3 linked regions of the Homo sapiens genome follow. The protein of the gene in region 2 interacts with the protein of the main gene of each other region in a biochemical or structural test. Each region holds a gene or a part of one and is shown on either strand. Other genes may lie near its edges.

Region 1 (3,750 bases), on a different chromosome or scaffold from region 2:
CTCAGCCAGTTAGTCTGGATAAACCAAACTTGAATGTATACATAGGCCCAGCGACCAACCAAGATGTGTTAGTTGTAGAGGATGAGAAACAACAGAGAGCCGTAAGGCCTGTATCAAACTTAAAACAAGGCAGATCTGTTTACCTAGCCCTTTGGCCTACAGTTTGAGGCTCCTAGAAATTATGGGACTGCCTTTTTACTGTCCCCACCTGCTCTCAGAATCTCTCATGGGCTGGCTCATGTGAAAAAAACCAACGTTGAATAAAGTACCAGAGCCCACATCTCAAGAGCTGCCACTGTTTGCCTGAAAGACCACCTCCCAGGGCCTTGATTTCCTCATCTATACAAATGAGAGATGAATCTGCTTGACTTCTAAGGACCTGTAGCTTCTAGCATTCTATGAAAAGAAGGGAGGCTATCTGGAATGTTATTGGATGCCCTCTATCTGCCAGTTACTTTGCAGGGGTCAGCTTTTACTAGTTTGCCTTTTTTTTTTTTCAGATGAGGAAACTCATGCCTACAGAGTGGTTAAATGTGAAGTGACTTGTCAAATCACACAGCTAGTAAGAGGACCAGTCCAAGCACCTGCATCTCAAAGGCACAGATGTTTTGTCCTACACCTTACTACGTAGGGATTTCGAATCTGAGTGTATACTCAAGATTCTGAATCATAACTCAAGGTTGACACCAGTAACAAAACCGTCTGGTTGGATGAGTTCACCAGATGGGCCTCTTATGGGACCATCCCAAAATGACAACATACATACTCACTATGAAATTCATTGGCAGGAATTTTGTAGGGCATGTAGGGTAGGAAGATGGGAGGGTGGGGGAAACCTACAAACCTAGTATTTTGTGGGGTATCATCACAGCTCTGGACTGCTTCAGTTGGCAAAAAAATGGATGTATTGCCAAATAACTATCCCACTTAGGTTTAGGGTAATTAATTAAAGGCTAGAGTGTTGCCAGCACCTTTGATATGGGGAACCGGATGCATTATTAGCTCAGATCTTTGGGTGTGGTGACTCATGCCTGTAATCCCAGCACTTTGGGAGGCAGAGGTGAGCAGATCACCTGAGGTCAGGAGTTCGAGACCAGCCTGGACAACATAGTGAAACCCTGTCTCTACTAAAAATACAAAAATTAGGGCCAGGCGCAGTGGCTCACGTCTGTAATCCCAGCACTTTGGGAGGCTGAGGTGGGTGGATCACCTGAGGTCAGGAGTTTGAGACCAGCCTGACCAACATGGAGAAACCCCGTTTCTACTAAAAATACAAAAAAGTTAGCTGGGCATGGTGGCACATGCCTGTAATATCAGCTACTCAGGAGACTGAGGCAGGAGAATTGCTTGAACCCGGGAGGCAGAGGTTGCAGTGAGCCAAGATCACGTCATTGCATTCCAGCCTGGGCAACAAGAGTGAAACTCAGTCTCATTAAAAAAAAAAAAAAAAAAAATAGCCAGGTGTGGTGGCAGGCACCTGTAATCCCAGCTACTCAGGAGGCTGCGGCAGGAGAATCGCTTGAACCCAGGAGGTGGAGGTTGCAGTGAGCTGAGATTGTGCCACTGCACTCCAGCCTGGGTGACAGAGCAAGACTCTGTGTCAAAAAAAAAAAAAAAAAAATGGAATGTCTAATAGTGTATGGCTTTCTTCCGCTTGGGGTATTTTTTAATCCATTCTGTGGCTTGTTCCATGCCTGAGAACTTTTGACATCCTGTGCCCAGACTTAAACTCACCCCTTCAGTGTGTGGGTTTAGGGGGAGAAGTGAAGGTTGACACATTCATATCAACAACATAGTCTACTTTACCATCCAACGATGTATTTTGATATCAGCCAAGTATTTCTCTCTACAACTGTGAGCAATGCTAATCCACTCCAGCCTTCTTACACTGTAATGATACCTTTTCTTTGTCCTCTCTGAAAGTTTCTAGTAGCATATCTCCAAATAATTATTGAATTTGAAAGCCTCAGCTGGACAAGTCTTCTCTGTGGTTGAATTGTGACAATGTCTGTGTTCCTTAAAAAAATAAAAAATAACATAAAACCAAGTAAGGTTAGACAAAACAGTTGAAAGTTTAAAATCCCTTGGCCTCATCTAGTTCAGTGGAGACAAACTTTCTAAATGGGAGGAGGGCCATGTAATGAGAGGAGAGGAGAGGAGAGAAGTATTTGATGCACTCATGGCCTCAGGGTCAGGGAGACCTGGAGGAGCAGTGGAGATGGTGGAGAGCCAGAGAACAGGTGCCACCTCCCAAGAGGCAGCCTTTACTCACCTCTGGCTGATTGGTGGGGTTGGGGATGTGGGTACAGGCATATCAGACCTTTAGATTTTTTTCAAGAAAAGCCAGAAATCTGGATCTTTTTTTTTTCCTTTAAGAGATGTCATCTCACTATGTTGCCCAGGCTGGTCTTGATACTCCTGAGCTCAAGCAATCCTCCTATCTCGGCCCCCCAAAGTGCTGGGATTACAAGTGTGAGCCACCGTGCCCAGCCTGGATTTTTTTTTTATGTTAAATATCTCGATTTTTTTTCTAGCATTGGCTGACTTCACATGTATAACCACCACTTGCAGACAAAGCGAACCACCACGTCTCCAGGCCAAATTCCAGCTGCCAGCATGCAGCCTCTGATCTGATTCTCTTGTAGAAGCATTCCTTGAGCCTGGAAGTTCTCATTTAACTCTTGCCATACATGAACTTTGGAACTCTGTTAGGCCCTAACTGTTGGTGATTTTGTAGCTTGTTTTCTTTTCATCTTCATTTTGCCAAGAGAATATTATTTTCTGGCCATCAGGAACCCTCAGATGATGGCCTTGTGACTAGATGTTTGACTCTATACAGGTCAGTTTCTTTTTTGCACCTGAGGGTCTTTAAGAGAAGGGATTGGACTAAATGATTATCCCAAGGTTCTTTCTTACCCTAAAATTTTAAAATATAGTAAGCGGTCCCAGTGAAAAGAACGTGAGCCAGGAAACAGAAGACCTGGGTTCTCGTCCTGGCTTTGTGTGACTTTGGTCCAGTCACATACTTCCCTGACCCTGTTTGTTCATCCATTAGAAAGAACGGAGATGACGCCTAGTTAGTGGGTGCTTGGAAATCAGATTAGAAGTGCTGTTGAGGGCTTTTGCTTCACCATATGGAATGGAATATGGGGGGTATTGGGGTGGTTGGAAGGTTGCAATGGGGGATCACCTGGAAGCAGGAAGCACAAGCCGATTAGCCAAAAATACTTTCAAAAATTTCTTCCTAACCCCCAGAATTCTCCTAACACAAAACTATTTACTTTGGAAGTTGTCCCTGAAGTCCTCACTACTGCCTGACATGGGCAAGGTTGGCCCATAAAAGCACAGAGTGAACTGGCAAGGACCAGAGTCCACATACATTAACTCCGGGGCTCAAGATTTTAAAGAACAAAATTGATAATACACCTTTCGTTGTAGTTTACTTTTTGTATAAAGCAGAAGCATTAGAATACTATATGGCAGTACTTAAGCTTAATGGTAATTCCACACATAACTGGCCAAAGATTTTTCACAGGTCACCATGACCTGGAACTAGAGTAAATAGTTATCAGTGAAAGTTGAGCCTTAGTATAACCAGAACAGAGGCTTACCAAAAGTTACAGCAGGTCTGGCCTATAAAATACCAGCCCAAGATTGGGATAGACTCTCCCGTTCTGTGGTAGAGCTGTTTTTTGAAGCCCCATTAAAAAGTACTGTATACATGAATATAGTGAGGCTTCACTGTAAAAT
Region 2 (3,750 bases):
AAGGCAGATAGACCGCATGATTGAGGTTAGTCAGGCAAGACCAGAAGCTCAGAGTAGAAAACATGTATGGTAGAAGGCTGGGAAATAAGGTAGTCCTCCTGTTGCAGAAGTTTGTCTTAGCACTAACCCTGGATATAATGTCCAGATGGGTGAAAAACAGAAACAAACATTTCATTTAAAGTTGTGAGATTATTACTTGGCCACTTCAGTGATTTATGAGTCATCCTGGATGAAGTGCTTTCTTAAGCCTAAGTCAACCCTCGATGACTATTTTATTTTTTGAGATGGAGTTTCACTCTGTCGCCAGGCTGGAGTGCAGTGGCCTGATCTTGATTCACTACAACCTCCGCCTCCGGAGTTCAAGTGATTCTCCTGCCTCAGCCTGCCGAGTAGCTGGGACTATGGGCACATGCCACCACGCCCAGCTAATTTTTGTATTTTTGGTAGGGACGGGCTTTCACCATGTTGGCCAGGATGGTTTTGATCTGTTGACCTTGTGATCCGCCTGCCTTGGCCTCCCAAGGGGAGTAATCCCTTGGCCTGTAATCCTGGGATTACAGGCGTGAGCAACTGCACCCAGCCTATTTTTTAATAGTATTCTTGCATATATAATGTTAAAATAGAGGATGAAGAGTATCAGTAATTAGAAATATGTTTATGTATGCATTTCAATATTTTAAATTGCCTAGGTGTTTTTTTTTTTCCTTGGAAGTTTACATTTTCTTGGGCTTGATAGGTGCTTTGAAAGTACTTGCTGAATTTATTCAGTGGAAACCTGTGAAATTGGGAAGGGAGCTAAGTTGAGCCAGTTATCTGATGGACATTTAGGGACCCTGAGGACTAGAGAATAGTGCCTTATGTCATTGTGTGTGTGTCTCATAGTGCTTTGCATATTGCTGATACCCAGTAGACATTCGTTACTTGATTGGAGCTAGAGTTTTTGCCACTAAATTTTGCTTGGTTGCTTCTCATTTCAGACAGTGCCAGTGGCATATACTTTTCTTGTTTTTCAGCTGCTCCTGCTAAGGCCAAGCCGGCTGAAGCTCCTGCTGCTGCAGCCCCAAAAGCAGAACCTACAGCAGCGGCAGTTCCTCCCCCTGCAGCACCCATACCCACTCAGATGCCACCGGTGCCCTCGCCCTCACAGCCTCCTTCTGGCAAACCTGGTAGGCTTCCAACTCCCACATGTCATGTGGGAGAACATCTCGTCTAATATGTTCCTTCAAAGGGTAAACTCTAGACTGATGATGGTTCTGAACAGGCCAGGTTGGCTGCTTTGTAGAAAGAATTCTAGACTTTGTATCCAAAGGCCTGCTTTGCATCTCAGCTTTCTGTTACTAGCTGTGTGTCTTTAGGCTAGTCACTTAATTTATCTGAACAGATTGTTCATCTGTGAAGTTGGAGTGATACTAATATACCTCAGAATATCTTGAAGATTAAGTAACAGTACATATGAAAGCACTGGCACAAACTCAGCAGATGTTTCTTTCCTTGTCTGATGCAGCTTTATCCTCTTTTCATTTTCAGTGTCTGCAGTAAAACCCACTGTTGCCCCACCACTAGCTGAGCCAGGAGCTGGCAAAGGTCTGCGTTCAGAACATCGGGTAAGCCTCTGAGGACCACTTTCAGGAAAGAGGCAGGGGGCAGTGTTGAGATTAGTGGAGTATGGGTGTGGTGATGCCTACCTTTGAATGCCTGGCAGCTCATTCCCTCAACCTTGATAAAGGGAGTTTAGGATATAACTTCTTCATAGTCACATAACCATCAAATGATAGGACTAGAACCTGAGGTCTTCTGAACACTTGTTCAGTGGTTTTCCTACTATATTATGCTACCAGTGAAAGCCTTGGGTAAGTTAAATATTTGTAGGGGTGGTAGCTTAGTAACTCACCCCCGTCCTCCCACGATGTCACACGCTTCAGAGAGGTGGTTTAGTGAGCTCTATTCCTATACTTCTGGGATACTTAGCTGTAGCTAAGGGATAATACTCAGTAGCAATAGCTGTCAGGTGCAGACATAAAGCCTCAAGGAAGTATGGTCAGGATTGTGGTTCCTCTGCCTGAGAATACTTCCTAAAAATATGATAGCCTCGAAAGTTTGTTGCTCATGAGGTTCTGTTCCACAAATAGCTATTCTTATGCAAATCTTTATCAACAGAAAGTGCCCTTTTTCTTATGATTCTTATGTTGGCTAGACTACACTACACTACATTCTTTTATAAATGGGTTTTGGTTTTTAAATCACTGTTTCTGAGCCTTCATTCTTGGTCAAGCTTTAGGCACATCTGAGTGAGTAGTTTTGGCCTGTGTTTGCATGTTTTTGCTTGGAGGAGAAAGGGCCACCACAGGAAAGGGAAGCCTGGAGCTCGTGTACTTAGATACTGTAGTCCTTGGCCATCTACTCGTGGCAAGCCGTGTTCTTTCTGACTACACGGGGAATGCTTGACCCAGAGAGATCAGATTGTCAATGCTTGTTCCACTCTTACTTTCAGGAGAAAATGAACAGGATGCGGCAGCGCATTGCTCAGCGTCTGAAGGAGGCCCAGAATACATGTGCAATGCTGACAACTTTTAATGAGATTGACATGAGGTAGTGTCTCTAGTCCCTCTTATCCCCTAGGCCCCTTTTTCTTAGAGAACACGAACTTGCCCCACTCCTTATCTAGTGCTGATTCTAAAACTAACTTGTCAGGGAAGAGGTATTTGTTTATTGTTTTTTGTTTGTTTGTTTTTGTTTTTGTTTTTTGAGATGGAGTCTCGCTGTCTCCCAGGCTGGAGTGCAGTGGCATGATCTCGGCTCACTGCAAGCTCCGCCTCCCGGGTTCACGCCATTCTCCTGCCTCAGCCTCCAGAGTAGCTGGGAATACAGGCGCCCCCCACCACGCCTGGCTAATTTTTTGTATTTTTTTAGTGGAGACGGGGTTTCACCGTGTTAGCCAGGATGGTCTCGATCTCCTGACCTCGTGATCTGCCCTTCTCGGCCTCCCAAAGTGCTGGGATTACAGGCGTGAGCCACCGCGCCTGGCCTGTTTATTGTTAACTTTCACAGAGTGAGCCGCTGGCTTCTTCTCTAATTGGCTTTCCTAATACTATGCCTGCCTCCTCCATGACCTTAACCTTAGCCTTGGCTAGGTGTAGTGGCTCACACCTGTAATCCTGGCACTTTGGGAGGCCGAGGCAGGCGGATTGCTTGAGTCCAGGAGTTCAAGACCAGCTGGGTAACAAGGCGAAACCCCACCTCTACAAAAAATACAAAAATTAGCCAGGTGTGGTGGTGCACATCTGTAGCCCCAGCTACTTGGGGGGCTGAGATGGGAGGATTGTTTGACCCCGTCACTTACATATTTTCCTAAGTGATTCAGAATCGAGTGGATGAAAAGGCAAAGATAGGCTGGGCTTGTCTTTCATTTTACCCAGCTCTGACAGTGAAATGGAAAACAAGTTGTGTTTTTAAATAACCTTAGAATGTTAACCAAAGGTACTAATTCACTAGGTATGCCCATTTCTGTAGTGAGCTAATTGTTGACTTACCTGTTTTCTTCAAGATTTCAATGTGTTCAAGTATCAGCACTGTCAGGAAGAGAAATTTGACAAACGTGTTTTGAGTGCGTACTGTATACAGAGTACTGTACTGTGGAATTCAGTGGGGATAGACGCTGGGCACCATGGCTCGTGCCTATAATCCCAGAGCTTTGGGAGGGTGAGGAAGGAGGATCGCTTGAGCTTAGGAGTTGGAAACCAGCCTGGGCAA
Region 3 (3,750 bases), on a different chromosome or scaffold from region 2:
ACTGCTGAGCACCACATGCGGAGCAATCACATAGGCTGCAGGCCCCAGCCCGGTGGGGAGGACGGATGTTTGAACAGGTGGTCATAGGGGGTGTGCTGAGCTCTGGAAGAGAGGTGAGCCCTGGCAGAGGCCAAGGGAGTGCAGGGTCCCCAGGGAGCGGCTCCTGAGCTGGGTGTTGAAGGGTGAGTAGAAGTTGAGTGGAGGGATACGTTGGAGAAGTGATTCATAAAAAGGAAGGAGGCCGGGCGAGGTGGCTCACGCCTGTAATCCCAGCACTTTGTGAGGCCGAGGCAGGTGGATCATGAGGTCAGGAGATGGAGACCATCCTGGCTAGCACAGTGAAACCCCGTCTCTACCAAAAAAAATACAAAAAAATTAGCCGGGCATGACAGCGGGCACTTGCAGTCCCAGCTACTTAGGAGGCTGAGGCAGGAGAATAGGAGAATAGCGTGAACCCGGGAGGCGGAGCTGGCAGTGAGCCGAGATCGCACCACTGCACTCCAGCCTGGGCAACAGAGCGAGACTCCGTCTCAAAAAACAAAAAAAAGGAAGGAGTGTGGGGGACAGCGAGGGAGTGCCCTGCTGCCCTGGGATACCGCGGGGGTGGGAGTATGGGGTGGAGGCTTGCAGCTCGGAGTGTCCCCAGCAGTCCAAGGGCCCACAGGGCAGGACAGCCCTGGTGCTTCTTGGTGCTGGGCCATGTCACAGCCTTACATGGGCTTTGGGTGCATTTGCTCTGAGACTGCCAAGGAGAGGGTCAGAGCTCTTTCCTAGGTACAGAGAAGCAGGGAAGGGAGTATTGGGAGTCCGAGCAGGCTGGGATGGGCCCTGCCAGGAGTGGATACCCAGCTAGGGGAGGTGAACAGCAGGGAAATTGGTCATCTTTCCTTTTCCCTCCTTCTCTGCCTCTTCTGACCTGAGGCTCCTGTTGAGTGGGAGGGCAGGTGTGTTTCATGGCCTGAAGGTCAAGGCTTGGGTAGCCTTGCTTTTGACCTTCCTTCTGGAATCTTCAGAATCTGATCCTTCACGAGCCTATTGTTCTGTATTTCAGTTAATTATCTTCACCCCCAAATCCCTGTTGCGCCACCCCGAGGCCAGATCCAGCTTTGATGAGATGCTTCCAGGTGGGTGTGAGGGAGATGGGCATTTCCTTGGGGGAAGCTATGTTTGGGGCTTCTTTGCTGCTGCTCTTTTACAGCTCATGGGACTGACATTTGTGATTCTCACTGGCTCTTGCCAGATTTTTGGTTGTAAAGACCCGTGATACATGGCTGGGCACAGTGGCTCACGCCTGTAATCCCAGCACTTTGGGAGGCCGAGGCAGGCAGATCATCTGAGGTCAGGAGTTCGAGGGCAGATCACCTGAGGTCGGGAGTTCGAGACTAGCCTGACCAACATGGAGAAACGCCATCTCCACTAAAAATACAAAATTAGCCAGGCGTAGTGCCACATGTCTGTAATCCCAGCTACTCAGGAGGCTGAGGCAGGAGAATTGCTTGAACCCAGGAGGTGGACGTTGCAGTGAGCTGCTATCACGCCATTGCACTCCAGCCTGGGCAATAAGAGCAAAACTCCGGCACAAAAAAAAAAAAAAAAGTCCCATGATACCAGATGAGGGAGGTCACAGCTTACATTCACGTTGGTCAAATGACATGTCTTAACATGCAGCCCAGGAGCTGTTGCCTCTCACCTGCAAATGCCCCCAAGGACTCCACTAGAGGCAATTAAGTATGTCCAAGATTGAGGGTTAGTGCCGCTGCCTGCGGCCTCCTTCAGCAGGTGAGTGGCAGCTCACCACTGGCTCAGAGGCCCAGCCCCAAAGCAAGCCCTTCAGGACAGAGAAAAAAACACTGGACGGCAGGTCCTGCCAAGTCACATGCCAGCTGCACTTGTGTGAAGGGAGACCCATAACATTGAGATTTCTATAGGGACAGTGGAGTGCAGGATGTTGACACAGCCTTTACCACCCACCAGGGGTCACCAGGCCAGGAAGCCTGCATCCCACCAGTCACCAAACCCCCTTTAGTCTTCAATCAAGGTGAGCCCCTTGTTTTTTGGGGGTTTTTTCCCAATCTTTTTTTATTTTTAATTTTATTTATTTATTTATTTATTTATTTTTGAGACGGAGTCTCGCTCTATCGCTCAGGCTGGAGTGTGGTGGCACAATCTCGACTCACTGCAAGCTCCACCTCCCGGGTTCACGCCATTCTCCCACCTCAGCCTCCCAAGTAGCTGGGACTGCAGGCGCCCGCCACCACGCCTGGCTAATTTTGTTTTTGTATTTTTAGTAGAGACGGGGTTTCACCGTGTTAGCCAGGATGGTGTCAATCTCCTGACCTCATGATCCACCCATCTTGGCCTCCTAAAGTGCTGGGATTACAGGCATGAGCCACCATGCCCAGCCCCCAGTCTTTTTTTATTATGGTAAAATACACAACATAAAATTTACCATTTTGACCATTTTTAAGTATCCAGTTCAGTGTGTTACTGCCTCTATAAATTTGACTACTCTATGGAACTCATAAGTGAAATCATACAGTCTTTGTCCCTTGCGACTGGCTTGTTTCATTTAGTATAATGTCTGCGAGGTCCATCCATGTTGTGTAGCATGTGTCAGAATTTCTTTTTTTTTAAGACTGAATAGCCAGGCATGGTGGCTCATGCCTATAATCCCAGCACTTTGGGAGTTCGAGGCAGGTGGATCACTTGAGGTCACAAGTTTGAGACGAGCCTGGCCAACAGGGTGAAACCCCGTCTCTATTAAAAATACAAAAATTAGCAGGGTGTGGTGGTGCACGCCCTGCTACTCTGGAGGCTAAGGCAGGAGAATTGCTTGAACCCGGGAGGCAGAGGTTGCAGTGAGCTGAGATTGCACCACTGCACTACAGCCTGGGCAACAGAGTAGGACTCCATCTCAAAACAAAACAAAACAAAAAAGACTGAATAGGCTGGGCCCAGTGGCTTACACCTGTAATCTCAGCACTTTGGGAGGCTGAGGCAGGTCGATCACTTGAGGTCACGAATTTGAGACCAGCTTGACCAATATGATGAAACCCCATCTCTACGAAAAATACAAAAATTAGCTGGGCATGGTGGCGCGCACCCGTAATCCCAGCTACTCAGGATGCTGAGGCAGGAGAATTGCTTGAACCTGGGAGGCAGAGGTTGCAGTGAGCCAAGATTGCGCCACTGCATTCCAGCCTGGGTGACAGAGACTCCGTCTCAAAAAAAATAAATAAATAAACTAGCCGGGGGTGGTGGCGCATACCTGTAATCCCAGCTACTCAGGAGGCTGAGGCAGGAGAATCACTTGAACATGGGAGGCAGAGGTTGTGGTGAGCCAAGATCACGCCGTTGCACTCCAGCCTGGACAACAAGAGCGAAACTCCGTCTCAAAAAAAAAAAAAGACTGAATAATACTCCATTATATGTGTATGCCACATTTTGCTCATCCATTCATCTGTCGATGGACACTTGGGTTGCTTCCATGTTTCAGCTATTATGATTAGAGGAGCTGCTATGAACATTGGTGTACAAATATTTCTTTGAGTCCCTGCTTTCAGTTCTTTTGAATATGTACTCAGAAGTGGAATTGCTGGACCATATGGTAATTCTATTTTTAGTTTTTTGAGGAACTGCCAAACTTTCCACAGTGGCTGCATTTTACATCCCACCAACAGTATATGAGGATCCCACCATCTCTACATCCTCATCAGCACCTACTATTTTCTGGTTTTTTCATAGTAGCCA

The links.
Region 1: the proteins of DLST (region 2) and SIAH2 form a complex in vitro, tested with the Homo sapiens proteins (2 studies listed by BioGRID, with this or other methods).
Region 3: the proteins of DLST (region 2) and OGDH form a complex in vitro, tested with the Homo sapiens proteins (one study listed by BioGRID).

The regions. Positions count from the first base shown.
Region 1 is NC_000003.12:150,756,441-150,760,190, reverse strand, and holds part of SIAH2 (E3 ubiquitin-protein ligase SIAH2), read left to right. Parts: intron 1-3,750. UniProt on the Homo sapiens protein: E3 ubiquitin-protein ligase that mediates ubiquitination and subsequent proteasomal degradation of target proteins.
Region 2 is NC_000014.9:74,891,821-74,895,570, forward strand, and holds part of DLST (dihydrolipoyllysine-residue succinyltransferase component of 2-oxoglutarate dehydrogenase complex, mitochondrial isoform 1 precursor), read left to right. Parts: exon of another isoform or gene 1-238; intron 239-1,013; coding exon 1,014-1,166; intron 1,167-1,527; coding exon 1,528-1,604; intron 1,605-2,491; coding exon 2,492-2,589; intron 2,590-3,750. UniProt on the Homo sapiens protein: Dihydrolipoamide succinyltransferase (E2) component of the 2-oxoglutarate dehydrogenase complex. The 2-oxoglutarate dehydrogenase complex catalyzes the overall conversion of 2-oxoglutarate to succinyl-CoA and CO(2).
Region 3 is NC_000007.14:44,700,492-44,704,241, forward strand, and holds part of OGDH (2-oxoglutarate dehydrogenase complex component E1 isoform 1 precursor), read left to right. Parts: intron 1-1,051; coding exon 1,052-1,124; intron 1,125-3,750. UniProt on the Homo sapiens protein: 2-oxoglutarate dehydrogenase (E1o) component of the 2-oxoglutarate dehydrogenase complex (OGDHC). Participates in the first step, rate limiting for the overall conversion of 2-oxoglutarate to succinyl-CoA and CO(2) catalyzed by the whole OGDHC.